2 linked regions of the Homo sapiens genome follow. The protein of the gene in region 1 binds, or shares a complex with, the protein of each later gene. Links are inferred from orthologs where the notes say so. Each region holds a gene or a part of one and is shown in the gene's direction. Other genes may lie near its edges.

The links.
Region 2: the proteins of ATP6V1A (region 1) and ATP6V1D are in contact, whole or in part, in a cryo-EM structure (PDB 9B8P), measured with the Rattus norvegicus proteins. The link is inferred for Homo sapiens from one-to-one orthologs. Residues at the interface, in NP_001101788.1 of Rattus norvegicus: Ala366, Met368, Pro369, Ala370, Asp371, Ser372, Asp416, Ser418, Asp436, Lys438, Glu491, Gln494, Leu495, Val496; in NP_955418.1 of Rattus norvegicus: Lys4, Asp5, Arg6, Arg167, Ala171, Val175, Ile176, Arg179, Tyr186, Glu190, Arg194, Glu197, Tyr200, Arg201, Lys204, Ile205, Lys208.

What each region holds. Positions count from the first base shown.
Region 1 is NC_000003.12:113,749,828-113,757,107, forward strand, and holds part of ATP6V1A (V-type proton ATPase catalytic subunit A), read left to right. Parts: intron 1-7,280. UniProt on the Homo sapiens protein: Catalytic subunit of the V1 complex of vacuolar(H+)-ATPase (V-ATPase), a multisubunit enzyme composed of a peripheral complex (V1) that hydrolyzes ATP and a membrane integral complex (V0) that translocates protons.
Region 2 is NC_000014.9:67,356,797-67,364,651, reverse strand, and holds the start of ATP6V1D (V-type proton ATPase subunit D), read left to right. Parts: upstream 1-4,847; 5' UTR 4,848-4,953; coding exon 4,954-4,994; intron 4,995-7,855. UniProt on the Homo sapiens protein: Subunit of the V1 complex of vacuolar(H+)-ATPase (V-ATPase), a multisubunit enzyme composed of a peripheral complex (V1) that hydrolyzes ATP and a membrane integral complex (V0) that translocates protons.

The sequences.
Region 1 (7,280 bases):
TGCACTAAATGTTAGCTTTTAAATATAAACTGGTAATAACCTTCCAAATTCATGGTCAATACAATAGATAAAAACCTCAGATGGACTTTATTAATGCTGAGACCAACTTATTTTCACAGCATGTTTGTTTACTAATAAGTATGGTTATCATCAAAATATGGGAGAGAAGGGAAGAGGAATGAATCGTACTAAATGAAAAAGTGGCTCTGCGTGATCTATAAGTGGACTAGCACTAGACTAAAAGTCAGAGGATCTTCATTCAGCTCTGCCACTTTAGTTATATGTCCTTTTACGTAATGCTGGGGAGGGGTTCAGGTTTGATACTTAGGAACCTTCCTATGACATAAACCCTAGGTAATCTATGTGAAAATATCTTAAAAACTAAGTGGTGTCTGTAATCCCAGTGCTTTGGGAGGCCAAGGCGGGCAGATCACAACGTCAGGAGATCGAGACCATCCTGGCTAACACGGTGAAACCCTGTCTTTACTTAAAAAAATTAAAAAAATTAGCCAGGCATGGCGGCACGCGCCTGTAGTGCCAGCTACTCAGGAGGCTGAGGCAGGAGAATCACTTGAACCCGACAGGTGGAGGTTGCAGTGAGCCAAGATCACACCACTGCGCTCCAGCCTGGGCAACAGAGTGAGACTCCATCTCAAAAAAAACAAAAACAAAAACAAAAAAAACTAAGTGGTGTGTAAAATGGTAAAGCAGTGTAGCTCAGACTTTACATGAATTGATTTCCCAGTCATAGAGACCTAGTTGAAGTTCTGGCCCTACCACTTAATAACTGTGTGACTTTGGACAGTGTACTTAAGTAAGGTTAAGTTTTCTCACGTTTAAATCTATAGATGGTGCTATTAAGTTAGATCATGAATGTAAAATGCCTAGAACATATTTTGTAAAAAAAATTTTTAATTAATTTTACTGATAACTACTTTGATTTTATATACTGAATTTCTAAAGACTTAAGACAACCCACAGAATTGACTGATGTCCCTGTGAGCAGCAGGTTTGGGGCATGAAGAAGAGAGTAGAATTTGAAAAGAAGCTATTACCCAAAAAATGGGGGAACAAGAAAAGTGTACTTGTAGCAAAGATTCTAAAACAGATTTATTAATTTTATCTGAAAAATATCAAGATAAAGTCCCTTATTTGGGCAACTGCAGTGTCTTAATATTTTCTATATAAAGATTTTCCAAAGCTTGTAATCATTAATGTATGGAATAAATTTAAGGAGGCAGTTCTTCAATTTTGAAGTTTTTATTCCTGCAATGGATTATAGAAGTATATTAAAATTGTACAGATTGTAGAGCAGGGACTTTTGAGTTAATGCTTATAAGCTTAAAAATTTTGTCTTTTTAAAAAAATTAAGTGTTTTTATATCTTATTTTTATCCTTATATGAAATAGACAAAGAAATGTAGAGAACATAATGGAGACATAAACTAGAGTAAAATTCTTCCCTTCTTAAATTCATGATTCACAAGGGTTAGTAGTTTTGCAATGGAAAATATCAGCAAATTAAACAGTAAGTATAGCTATCATGAGTTTATGAATCACTTTATTCCTGAAAAAAAAAATTACTCATTTGTCTTAAGGAAAGATTTTATTAAGTTTATTGACTTTTCCTTAATGTTGATTGTCTATTATAACAAATGGATTTATTGATTTAGGAATGAATTTATTCTTTATACTAAGTAACTTTATTTTAAATAAATGAAATGTGAGCAATAAAAATGTTTTCCATATAATTTCTGAAGAGAATATTAGTTTTGCTATTCTCTTTTTTCCCTATGGTGAAATGATAGCGACTTTGGTTTTTATAAGTGTATTCATTTATATTTAGTATATACATATTATGTATATACTATATATAGAGTAAATATTTGTAGTATATAAAGTACGCAATGTGTGTGTATGTATATATAAAGACAGCTGAAGTGGTTGTGTATCTTCGTAGTAACATATTTATTTTTACCTGAAACTACTGAAGTGATCTTTAGAATAATGATTTATTTACATTTGAAACTCCTCTTTCTGTATATTTCTTTGTAGTTAGCTCTAGTTAATAAATTTACAACTGTGATTAGCTGTTTTTAAAAATTAATGGTATATCATAAGTATTTTCAGATTTAAATTTTAGAAGGAAACACTTTCTTATATCTTAAGGTTTTAAAAATCACTATTATTTTTGGTATTATTATGACTAACAACAAAAATTTCAGTTTTGGATCTTAATGCTATCTGTTGAAACTGTTCTCTTGGTAAGCCTTTAAAAAAATTTTATCTGCAACATGCCACATTTTGTTTCTTTTCTGAAAAATAATTAAGCTTATTTCACTGAAAATAAAATGGGTGGTATATGATATGATATAGAAGAGTTTCAGATGTGCTTGAGCAATGAAAAGCAACCAGACTTTATAAGTTTTTAGTTCTTAGTTTAATTTTTTTAATGTTTAAAGGTACAATAGAGAAGACTAATTGAATTGGAAAATACCTTTAAAATTGAAAAAAGAGCATATGTATAATAATAATAGTATATACATATGGAAAAAGTTGTAAGGAAATGCATCAAAATAAGTAATTATCTCTAGATTGATGCATTAAAGAAAAAATTAAAATTTATTACTATACCTTCTGTATATTTGAATTCATAATGTCAGTAGGCATTGCAAAATATTTCTTAATTTGATATGGAAAATTAAGGCACCTAAATAATTCTTTCATCTTAACTACTTGGATATCTTAAGTGAAAATGTTTTGTCTCATCCAGGTAGCTGAGTAAGTTATTTAATTTTATAGGTGTGTAAATATATTTTTAATTTTAAGTATATAAGTGCAGCAGAATTTTAAAAAGCAGAGTAAATCTCAGTATATAAGATAATTTACCACATTTCAAAGGGATAATTCAATCCAATGGTGAAAAAGGGCACATATATATCATAAATGTTAACTGATACAACTTGCTCATCTAGAAGAAAATATAATTGATCCAATACATTGCAACAGATGCAAAAACTGATTTCAGATGGATTAGAGGCTTAAATGTAAACAATAAAATATTTAAGATATTAATCTCCTAAATTTCCTTTATACAAACAATCCAGATGTAGTTTTTTAAACCAAGATAGGAAACCTAAAAGTCATAAAAGTATGGATAGACACATGAGACTGCATGGAAACGAAGGATTCTTTAGTGGCAAAAATAAAGGACCAAAGACAAAATCAGGCGGAAAAAAAGGCTTGAGATATATGTAACAGATGAGTTAACCATTGAAAGAACTCTTTCCAATTAAGAAAAAGTTCACCCAGTAAAAATATGGATAAAACATGTCACCAGAAGTTCACAGAAGAGAAATCCAAACATTCAACAAACAGTAAAGGATGTGTAACCTTACTAGTAATCAATATACTAACAATGAAATATTATTTCTCTGACAAGCAAAAATTAAGTGGTAAACCTACTGCTAGCAGGGATATGTGGAGAAGGATTATCTCATAAAATGCTAGCGGAGATGTGAAGTGTTAGAGTTTTTCCTAGTAAACAATCAAGCAACATCAGTTAATACTGAGAATACATGTATTTTCCACCCATCAGTCTAACTCCATGTAATCTTTTCCTTAGAAATAAAAGCACCAGTAAGAGTTTACAGGAGTGTTAGCTGCAACAGTGTTTCAATTTTCAATGTTAGTAGTGGCAAAAAACGTGGAAACAAAGGGAATGCCTGTTAATAGGGGTATTGTTATGTAAATTATGGCCGAGGCATTTTATGGAATGTTGTGAAGTGATTAAATGGTAGGAGTTAAATCTACTGGTGATTAGAAAGGATTTCCAAGTACATTCTGAAAGGATTTCTATCATGTGTCTTTTTTTTTTTTTTTTTCCTGAGACAGGATCTTGCTCTGTTACCCAGATTGGAGTGTACTGGTGCTGTCTTGGCTCACTGCAACTTCCTCCTCTTAGGTTTAAGCTATCCTCCCGCCTCAGCCTCCAGAGTAGCTGGGGCTACAGGTGTGCACCACCACACCTGGCTAATTTTTTGTATATTTGGTAGAGACGGGGTTTCACCTTATTGCCCAGGCCATCATGTATCTTAAGAAAAAAAAATACAAAGTACAGAGAAACATTTGTAATGATAACTCATTTTTTATAAAACCAGTTGAAAAACACCATGAGTTTTGTATATTTTTACCTGGTTGTCACCGTTGGAAAGAGGAAATAAGCAGAAAAGGAAAGAGACAGAATATCCATAGTAACATATTTATATAAAACTACATGTTTGTACATGTCTGTGTATATGATGGATTATGGGAAACAATGGGCACTAAGATGATTTACTTTCTTCCTTACACTTTACATTATATGTTTTTATTTTTACAGTGGACATGAAGTGTTTCTGTAATTAGGAAAAACAGGCTGGGCATGGTGGCTCACGCCTGTAATCCCAGCACTTTGGGAGGCTGAGGCAGGTAGATCGCTTGAGCCCGGTGTTGGAGACCATCCTGGGCAACATGGCAAGACCCCCCTCTACCAGTAAAAACTAAAAATTAAAAAAATTATTTGGGCACGATGGCATGCACCTGTAGTCCCAGCTACTCAAGAGGCTGAGGTGGGAGGATCACTTGATCCCGGGGCATTCAAGGTTTCAGTGAACTGCGAATGTGCCACTGCACTCCAGCCTGGGCGTCAGAGCGACACCCTGTCTCAAAAGTAAGAAAAAAAAAAAGAAAAGAAAAATGTACCAAAAAATGATAGGGACTACTAGATAGGATTACAAATTTGGCATGTTATTTTTGGTATGGATAGTCAGTGCTATCGACACGCTTTCTGCCTTAGAGTGTAGAGCACATTGCACAAGTGTGGGATCTGTCACCTGACTTAATCATATGACAGAATCATAAGAAAAGTCCCTATTTGGGTTTTGGCATATAAACTGGATTACAAGATTAACTTGCCTTAAGAAAACTTTAAACAAGAACTTCTTTAAAGAAGCAAAATAAAAAGTACTTATAATTGTTTAATACTTGATTTCTGTCCTTTTAAAAGTATCTCCGTAGAATACATCATTCAAAGCCTAGACAGAAAATAGCAGATGCTTTAGAGTTGGATTTGTTGCATACTTAAAGTAGCTGTATTTTTTTCTCACATTGGTATTACTTCCCCTTTTCATTACCAGTTTTATTAATTGCATATATGTGCTTTAATGTAAGCTGTCCAAAGTTTTTTTTACAAGAGTTGGGATATATGTAAATAAAAATAATTTTAGAGTAGTATTAATATAACAAAGAGATGAAGGAAACCAGACTGTGTGAGTCAAATCCTGGCTCTGCTTCCTAGTGGTGTGACTTTGGAGGAGTTACTTGTGTCTTTTTGCATTGCATTTTTCTCAACTTTAAAATAAGGATAATAAGAGTATTTAACTTCATTGGATGTTGTGAATAATAGAAGCGATTGGAATAATAACTAGCACATAAGGACCGTATATATATTTGCCAGCTGGGTGCAGTGGCTCACACCTGTAATCCCAGCACTTTGGGAGGCCGATGCAGGCGGATTGCTTGAGCCCAGGAATTGAAGGGCAACATGGCAAAACCATGTCTGTACAAAAAAAAAAAAAAAAAAAATTAGCCAGGCGTGGTGGCACACACATCTAGTTCCCGCTATTCGGGAGGCTGAGGTGGGAGGATTGCTTGAGCCTGGGAGGCAGAGGTTGCAGTGAGCTGAGATCGTGCCACTGCAGACCCTGGGTGACAGAGCCAGACCCTGTCTCAGAAAAATATATATGTAATAATAATATGTGCTATTATTTGCTCAGTCAATTAGGTGCAATATATAATAGTTTTACTTGGCTCAGTTGTTTTAACATTCATTTACTCATCCAACAATATTTTTAATTCAGTTGAATGGGTAATACATGTACAAATATGGTAAAATTTATATATTCATACAAGTGTGTTTTCTCTCCCCTCATCCTTATTCTTTTCTTCCCCCATATATTTATCCACAAATGGTAGCACCTCTTCGTATTATTCTGGACCTTACATTTTTCGCTTGAGTATTACGTTGGAGATCTTTTCACATTGATACAGTTAAAACTGCCTCATTCTTTTTAATGATAGTTTAGTATTCAATTGTATTAATATACCCTCATCATCATATGTAACATTTATTGAGAGCTTACTCCTGATCCAAATGCTTTCTTAATACTTTAGTTTTATTAACTCATGGAAGCCTCATAACAACCTATGAGATAGGCACTATTTTTCTATATTTAACAAATGAGGAAAACTAGGCACGGGATGATTAAATGTCCAACAGTCACACAGTTTATAAGTGGTAGGGCTCAGGATTAGAGCCCAGGGAGTCACTTTCCAGAGATTGCTGCCATAATACCGCTAAACATGTAGCCTGTCATAGTATTACAAGGTATTTAACCAGCCTCCATATTAATGGACATTCCAATCTTTTGCTTAAGAAACAGTGCTATAGTTAATATTTTGTTAATAGAACATTTTGTACATCTACAATAAATTCCTAGAAATGGACTAGCCATGTCAAAGGTAAGTACAATTTGAATTTTGGTGGGCACTGCCAAATTGCTCTCCAATTTAGGGATGTTCAGAAGTTCACCTTTGTCCTTAGTAATTTGCCAAAATCTGCCATTTAGCTTGGGTCTTTGGAAGGTGTGCTTTTAACATTTCTAGCATCCCTGAATTGTGTGTGATCTACCATCATGTAATAGCTTAAGTTACTATCATATGGAATTAATGTAACAATGTCAGTATGAGAGGTGTGACCTTTGGACTTACTACTTTCAAATAACAGTAAGTATTTTAGATATAACTTGAAATACTCCTTAATGTGATTTATACATTGAAATTCTATCAATCGAAGTTTGAATAGATATTGTTGAAAAAGTAAAATGCTGTAATTGTTAATAATTGTGAAGTTGCTGATTTTATGTACCAAAGCAATTATGTAAGAGTGTTCAAATAGTTAAATAGTGAATCAGATTGCATTTGAACATTAAGAGTGTGGTAGCTAGCTAAATAGAGGAATAGCTGGGTCCTTTCTTGTGAAAAGTGAGTTTTTGATAATCCGTGAGTCCTAGTCGTAGGTAATGCAAAATGAGGTAGCGAGGAGCTTTATTTAGATGAGTTATAAAATCCACAAATTATTTTGAATATAACACACTTGGTTTCAGTGCCCAATATTTCACTTGTTCAAGAAAGGAAAAAGTATCTCTATGAATCTAAGAAGCAGATTGACTGACACCAAAC
Region 2 (7,855 bases), on another chromosome or scaffold:
CTTAGTCTTCTCATCCTTTGAAACTTCTTAAGTGGTACCAGAAAACAGATAATGTTCAGGAACCAAGCTTTAATTTTTATTTTGCTCAACATTTTTGTAATGCTTGGGTGATTCTCTGCCTTTAGTTTCAGAGGAATCATAAAAAATAATGACCATCTATAAAGTACTCCAAGACCTAAGGATTAAAGGAATACCTCAAGAGTAAAATACTACTTTAAGGCATATCAAATGATGGGAAGCATCACTATTATAACTAATCAGAAAACTAAAGCTACTCTTTGCCGAAGTGAGCAAACATTGTATACGCTACCACTCACTATATAAAGGAAAAAATTTTCTACCTAAACCCTAACCAATATACCAAATGATACATTCTGTCATTTATTATAGCCAAAATTACAGTGTCACATGTCAAAACAACAAAAACTAAAAAAATTTTAATCACAAAATAAACTAAAATGCATCCTCCTCTCATAATTCTTTTTCCTTGAATTCACAATGTCTAGCTTCTCTTATCCCCAATACTCCCAAATATTCCTTTCTTTTATTGAATAGGTATACCTAATCTTGAGAATAGCTTTAATCTCCATTACTACAAAGTTCAAGTTTCTCTTAACCTCCAAGCATTAAAGATATTTACAATTATTCCCTTTGATCCACCCAACCTACTTTCAGCACTACTCCTTTTATGATCCACAAGCCTGAAATCATAGCCTGGGTAGAAGCATATTTAAAAAAGGAAGCTCTCAAACTAATCATGGCTGATGATTTTCATGTTTTTCTGTTAACCTTCACTGTTGTCACTGCTCAAAACGTAGGTAGTAACAGAACTTAAAGGCCTAAGAAAACCTTGTGAAAATTCATATAATAACTTATTAATTGGCACCTGCCTATATCTTCTCAGTGGCTTCCCACTGACTTATGTATCTTTCCACTACCTACAGAATCCTATATGATCTGGCCATTGCCTATCTCCTTGTGGTACAACTTTCTCCCTAGTTCTCCCCATTTTATAGATTAAAAAACTGAAGCACAGGTTAAGTTACTTGTTCTTTCACATACTGCTAACAGGTGATGAGTCAGGATTTGAATCCATGAAGTCTGGATCCAGAGTCTGTCCTCTTATCAGTAAGACTATATTCTCTCAAAACTATTCATAAATATATTATAATTAGAAACATTTTACTTAAAAAGCAACATTAATATATATTCAGTGCCAGAGTACATAACACCAATAAGTGCAAACTATTAGTACTCATCTGTTTGACAACAAAGAGCAGCATATTAATGACAGTAGCAGAGATGTATTTCTTTGTAGGGAATACAAAATCCCTACAAAATAGGGATTTAGCAAATAAAGAGAAGTAGACATTCAATGGCCTTACCCACCAAGAAACAGCTGACTGTTTGTTTCGTTTTTAAACAGGGCTTTTCGAGGGTGGGGGTGGGGAAACTGTTGTTGAATATGTGTATGTAAAGCTCTCAAATTTGAGAGCTAAAAAGTTTCAAATTGGGCATAAAAATAAACTATGTTACAGAAATGTATGGAACAGTTGCAAGACATTTGACCAGTGAAAACCACATTTACTTACCAAGCTTCTCCAAACAGTAAAGGTGATGCTTTTAGGGGAAGCAAGGCTTAATTTGATGGTTAAAAAACATGGGCAATCATGTAAGAGAATCCTGAAGGGATATGACTATGAATACTATTTCTTCAGGAGGCACAAGTCTCTTTGCAACATAAAGGGTAAGTAAAGGAATACTGTTGATGGTATGTTATTCATAGTAAAGATAGATAGTAGTTAAGTACAAAAAGAATCCATACCACAAAAACCTGCATATTGGTTGACAATTTTTGAACATATTGCCTAATGAAATGCTAATAACTTAAATTTTTTTTTTAACTTAAAAAAATCATTCCGCAATATCGAAGTCACACTAGGTGACTTCACCTCTTTATCTTTTTCACAGCATTCTTATTTTATTTGGTCCTCAAGAAGTGTCAAATCAGGCAATTAACATAGTAAACTCGGGGAACAACTCTAGCCTTGTGTTCCAGTCCTTGCTCTGCTACTTACTAGAAGTGGCTGCTTGGGAAAGATAACATCCTTTGAACTGTAGTTTCTCATCTGTGCCATGTACATCACAGGTTTACTGAGGGTATCACATGTATACGTAAAAACATTTTGAAAACCATTATGTGCTAGTCAAACATAAAATATTGAAAGAAAAAGAAGGTATTTCCATTTTGTAATATAATAATTTGTTAATTTTTTTTTCAGTAGCTACTATGTACTAAGCACTAATGATACAACAAGAAAGACTCTTACCAGGCCAGGCGCAGTGGCTCACACCTGTAATCCCAGCACTTTGGGAGGCCGAGGCGGGTGGATCACTTGAAACCAGGAGTTCGAGGCCAGCCTGGTCAACATGGTGAAACCCCATTTCTACTAAAAATACCAAAATTAGCTGGGTGTGGTGGCAGGCACCTGTAATCCCACTACTATAGTGGCTGAGGCAGGAGAATCCCTTGAACCCAGGGGCAGAGGCTACAGTGAGCTGAGATCGTGCCACTACACTCCAGCCTGGGCAACAGAGACTCTGTCTCAAAAAAAAAAAGAAAAAAGAAAAAAGAAAAAAAAAAAAGACTCTTACCTAAGTAATTAAGTATAGAGTGGGAAACAAACTAGCAAGCAAATAATTACAATACAAAGTACTATGAAAGGGCACAGTGAAGCAATGAACAGGAAAGGTGGAACAGAAATACTAAATTATAATACTTCCTTAAGAACAAATGCTTAATAAGTACTAGCGTAGGAGCTAAACTCAAGTAATCCGACATCAAATCCAGAATGTCTTTAACCCACAGAACCTCAATATCACAACATGCTATAATACTCTTATGTGTTCTGATGTAAAAAGTATCAGCCACCTTTCAAAATATATCAACCAAACTCCAGGCTAATTTCAAATACCCTGCATAGTCAGTTATTTTGCATGACAAATGGTAGGTAGGACTTCTTTCTCAAAACAGTGCATGGTCAAACTGCTATAATGGATATAGAAGTTCACATTCCTTTCCAAAATATATTATGTGATGGGGACAACTCTCGTGATAATTCTAATTTGGATCTAACACGTATTAGGAATGCTCTCTGAATGCTAGTTCTTGGTATAGGAGTGCTACATAAGTAAAGCTTTTATTTCATCATTATAGTTGAAAAAGAAAGTTATCACCGAATCTCTACAAACATTACTGTGCATGAGACAACTACATCTTTTGGCACCAGATGAACTAAGAATAGGTAGCAAAGTTCTGTACAAGTCACCCCCAAACTATTGACAGAGATTGTTCCTTGAATAACAACTCAATTGAGGGGAAATAAAGACTTCTCTGCTATACTTTTTCTCGAAGAAACCATGTTTTTTGCTTAATAAAAATTTAAAAAGCCTAAGTTTTGAGGATAAAGAGACCTCAGCATGACTGTGTATTTAACCCGAAAATATATCCTTATCTTAGGTTTTAGTTATGCTTAACTAACATAGTTAACCTAACATATGCTTAACACAGTTCTATTCTCATTGTCGCCAAAATACGACAAACTGATAGTAACAGTAATAAACTCAAGTCTCATTTAGTTTTGGTTCAAGGGGTGACTCATTCAATTATCAGATGAAAAACTACTCGGACCCCGCTCTTTCCAACACGGTGCCCGTCCCACAGGTTTCTCAGGTAAGAGGCCAGTTTGGTTTCCACTGAGACGCAGGGGAAATTTTTGGTAGAGCTGTTGGGGCGGAAGAAAAGATGGAATTCTCAAGCCTGGAAAAAGCAAAGTGCTCAGCGTCCTGAGCCGGGGTTAAGAGTTACGGTGTCACAGCGTTCTCCTGAGACCGCCCCATCGTCATGGCATTCTCACTTTCGGCATATTGTAGAGGCTGTACAATCCACTCGGCCCACTTTCCTTCACGAGATTCCTCTGCTCGAACAACGATGCCTCTGGAACACAGGATGACCTACACGGAGCCGGCGAGGAGGCCCACGACAGCGCGGGTGGTGGCGGTGCTGTCCAGCCACTTCCCGCGCAGGGACGGGAAAGGGAGGTATTAGCCCGGGGCCTACCCGCTCTCGAACACCCATGTCACTGGACACAAACCAAAGTGAGTTCCTGGAGAAACCGAGCTTGGGATTAGTCACCTGAGGTATGTGTGTGATTCCCGCACTGGAGCCCAGAGCCGACTTCTTCAATCACAGAGACCAGACTTGCTTCCCCCTCACCGGCCGCCGATCCTCCTCAGCGTGCGCTTCGCTCACTCCACCGCGCATGCGGAACCTCCTCGCATGCGCAAGCGCTGAACGAATAGAGGCCCCTCTTCATCATTAACCATAGAGTCTGGGTCCTCCGAGAACAAGGACGAATGTAGATCATGGAAGGACCTGAAAAGTACTGTTTCTCGCTATCTTAGCTTTAGCTAAGTAACCTTCAAGGCGCGAGAAAGACATAGGACTCCGATTCCTTGCCTCTGAAGAATGAATCCTCTTTCAAAGTTTCAGCTAACCATGAGATGGCGCTGTGACCAAAGACGAAAGGTGGAGAAAGACAAGGCGTGCACGCTTCGCTCCTAGTCTTTGGCCTGGCGCGTGCCGCGTATTGCGCAGCCGCAGGGAAGCTGGATGGGGAGGGGTTGGGAGGCGAACCGGAATTGAGGGGTGGTTCCGCGGTGCGCGCGCCTCGACATCCGGGCAACGCCTCTGTTCTGTCCTCCCCCTTCGTCGCCTGTGACAACCGGAAGCGGAAGTGAAAATGGGTGTCCCTGCTGCCTCTTAGCAACAAGAGGGGTCAAGTGACACAACCAGCTGACTCCCGTAGAGGAAGACACTGTGGAGGCCAGTTCTGGAGCTATTGCAGCCTCGGTTGCCCGGCCGGGGACCCGAGCCGAAAAGTTATCGTCAGAATGTCGGGCAAAGACCGAATTGAAATCTTTCCCTCGCGAATGTAAGTAAAGGAATGGGATAAGCCGCTTTCACAGGTTTAGGAACCCGGAGCGCGGTCCCTTCAGACCCTGGGCCACAGTGAGGGTCCTTGTTTCCTGGGAGGATCCTGAGCTTTTCCCAGGTTCTTTTCTTGAGTCTAGGGCGAGGCTTCCTGACGGCCTCTTCGCGCATTCCTCCTGAGTGAATCAGGCTGGACGAAGCGATCCCAGCCGGTAGGAAAAGGCGCCCGGCCGGCGGGCTTTTGTGGAGGTCTGCTGTCTTTATTCATTAATGGATTCATCCATTCCACATACCCTTATTGAGCCGGGCACTGGATTTATATAACTGAACCGTCGCCACCTCTGCCCTACAGAGCTCACAGTTTACGTAGCCAGACATTCGTCTGGAAAGGCCAAGGAGGTTTTAATAAATGCTCTGAGAAGGGAAGTTTACTGAGGATATAGAAGAGGTCCCTAAGCCAAAGTGGGGATGGAATCGAATCGCCCTAGCATAGCCCTCGGATTCGATCTTGGATCCCCTTACTCATTTTCCAAGATCCCGCCAAATGTCACCTGCTGTGAGAGGATATCCCTGTGTTTCTGAGGCACTGCTTTTGCTCTCTCACCGCTGCACCTTGTTCAGACCTGTGTTAATACCGGTCATCACGCTGTAAAGTAGATATTTGTTTATGTGTCTTTCTCTCCCACTAGACTGTGGGCTCTCTCCAGGATGAAAGAGTGTCTTAATCCATAGAAGGTCCACAAAAAAATATTTCTTGAAAGAACTCATGCTTGGGAATACGCTCAGTTGTGGGCTGCCTTTCTTTTGGGGCCTGAATTCTTTGTCAGGAAAATGGCATATCACTGTAGGTGTTTGGCTAGTTTGTAAGGAAAATTTTGACGTTTTCTCAAATGTGCCTAACAACTTGCTCCCTTTCTCCTCCTCATCCTGTTTATTTTTATTTAGTTTGTTGTTTGTTTGTTTTAATAAGAGACAGGGTCTCCCAGGCTGGGGTGCAGTGGTATGATCAGAGCTCACAGCAGCCTCAAACCCCTGGGCTCAAGTGATCCTCCGGCCTCAGCCTCCCTGGCGGCTGAGATTATAGATGGGAGCCACCGCGCCTGGCTTTCCCTTTTTCTTTTCAGTGAGGAAGCAGAAAATCAGTTTTGACCCTGACATTTAGACCCTTTTATTGTGGTCCTATCTCTGTGGGGGTGTTTTGTTGTTTTTCCTCATTCTGTCCTTTGAGAGAATCTGAGGATGCTTAAAATAAAAGTTATATTCAAACCTGAAGCCCAGATTTCTTTCTGCCCGGTGACTAAATAGCTCTTAATGAAATGAAGTTTTTAAATTTTTTACCTTCACCTGTTGACTTTCTAATAGCTGTTTGCACTAAGTAGGCAGCAAGCTAGTTGTGGGGAAATAAAGATGAGGACTATCCCGAGGTAGTGACAACTGCAGAACTCCTAGGACGTGATGACTCAGTCAAAACTTCTGCACTGAAAGACATCGACACTAGTTTATCTTCTAGCAATGTAAGGCCTGCCCCTAGGGTGACCCCAGGCCGCCCCCCGCCGCCCCCGCCATTAAAATGCCTGCCTGAAAAAGCTCAAAGCTAGGGGGAGAATTTACTGTTTGTTCTAGTCAACACCTAATTGATAGACCCCTCTCGTTCCCTTTTTAGAGCATTTACGAAACAGGCTTACAATTGTTAATATGTATCTCTTCCAACTCTGAAGTGTCCCTTCAAGTATCTTTGAGAGCCATTTCTTTGAAACGTAATCATCAGGAGGGATAGGGGCTTTGTCTCCCAGTCTGTGTGAGAGGATAGAATAGTAACTTACTAATTGCCAGGTAGTATGGCGTTTACACTGACCAACACTTTAAGGTTTCTCTTCTCTGACTCTTCTTGCGGCTGGCTCCCTGCCACTCCCTTACTCTCTTTTTTAAAATGGCCAGTCACCTCTGCACAAATGAGAATTGAGCTCAGCCCTTTCCCCTACTATCAGTGGTTTACTGAATAAAATCTGTTTTCACTACTTTAACGAATGTCTGGCTGGGTTTATCTTTGACAGCAGTCAGAATAACTTTTTTGTTTTTACTTTGAAACTTTTACTTTGAGACTAAGAGGCAAAAATAGACATCTTTGGGCTTAGGTAAGAAAATGATAGGCTCATGAAGGTGAAACTACTATTTGAAAGCTCTCAGCTTGCTGATTGAGAGGAAAATCAGGTGCAGGAAATAATCTCTTCTCTAAATATTTTCCCCATGGCTGGCAGCAGGCTTTTTGTCATGTAGTCAGATGTCTTTGATTCAGCTGGAAGAAAAGTCATCATCCTAGCTAAAGGTCAAACTTTTTGAGTAGGACTGAGCAGCTCTGAAACATGTAAAGGAGCAAGTTTTAAAAGCCATAGGCTAGAAAATATACTGGCAGCTTGTTTCACAGACATTTCCATTCAACAGTATTATTCTGTGATGTTACTTTCACCCACTTTCGTACCAGAGAAAGCAAAAACAATTGTAGAGTGGAAGTAAAAGACGCATGAAAAATTTGGAGTCAACAGAAGTCCACTAAATCCAGGTTCTGCTACATATTAGCTGTAAGTGTGCACGCTGCTCTTAGAGTTTCAGGAATTAAAATTGCCCATTTCACAAAGATGCCATTCCCTAGGAGGAAAATAAAATTAACATGGTAAATTCAATTTTATCAACCAGTTTACCTTTTACTATAAACTGGCTGGAATATGCAGTACTACAATTTGACTTAAATTTGATCCAGCTCTTTGAGCCCAAGTTCTAGTATTTACTATCAACAATACATTATGTTAAATGCACACATTGAGATGGATAGCTCCTTCTCAGGCTGGAAACTAAACGACCTTC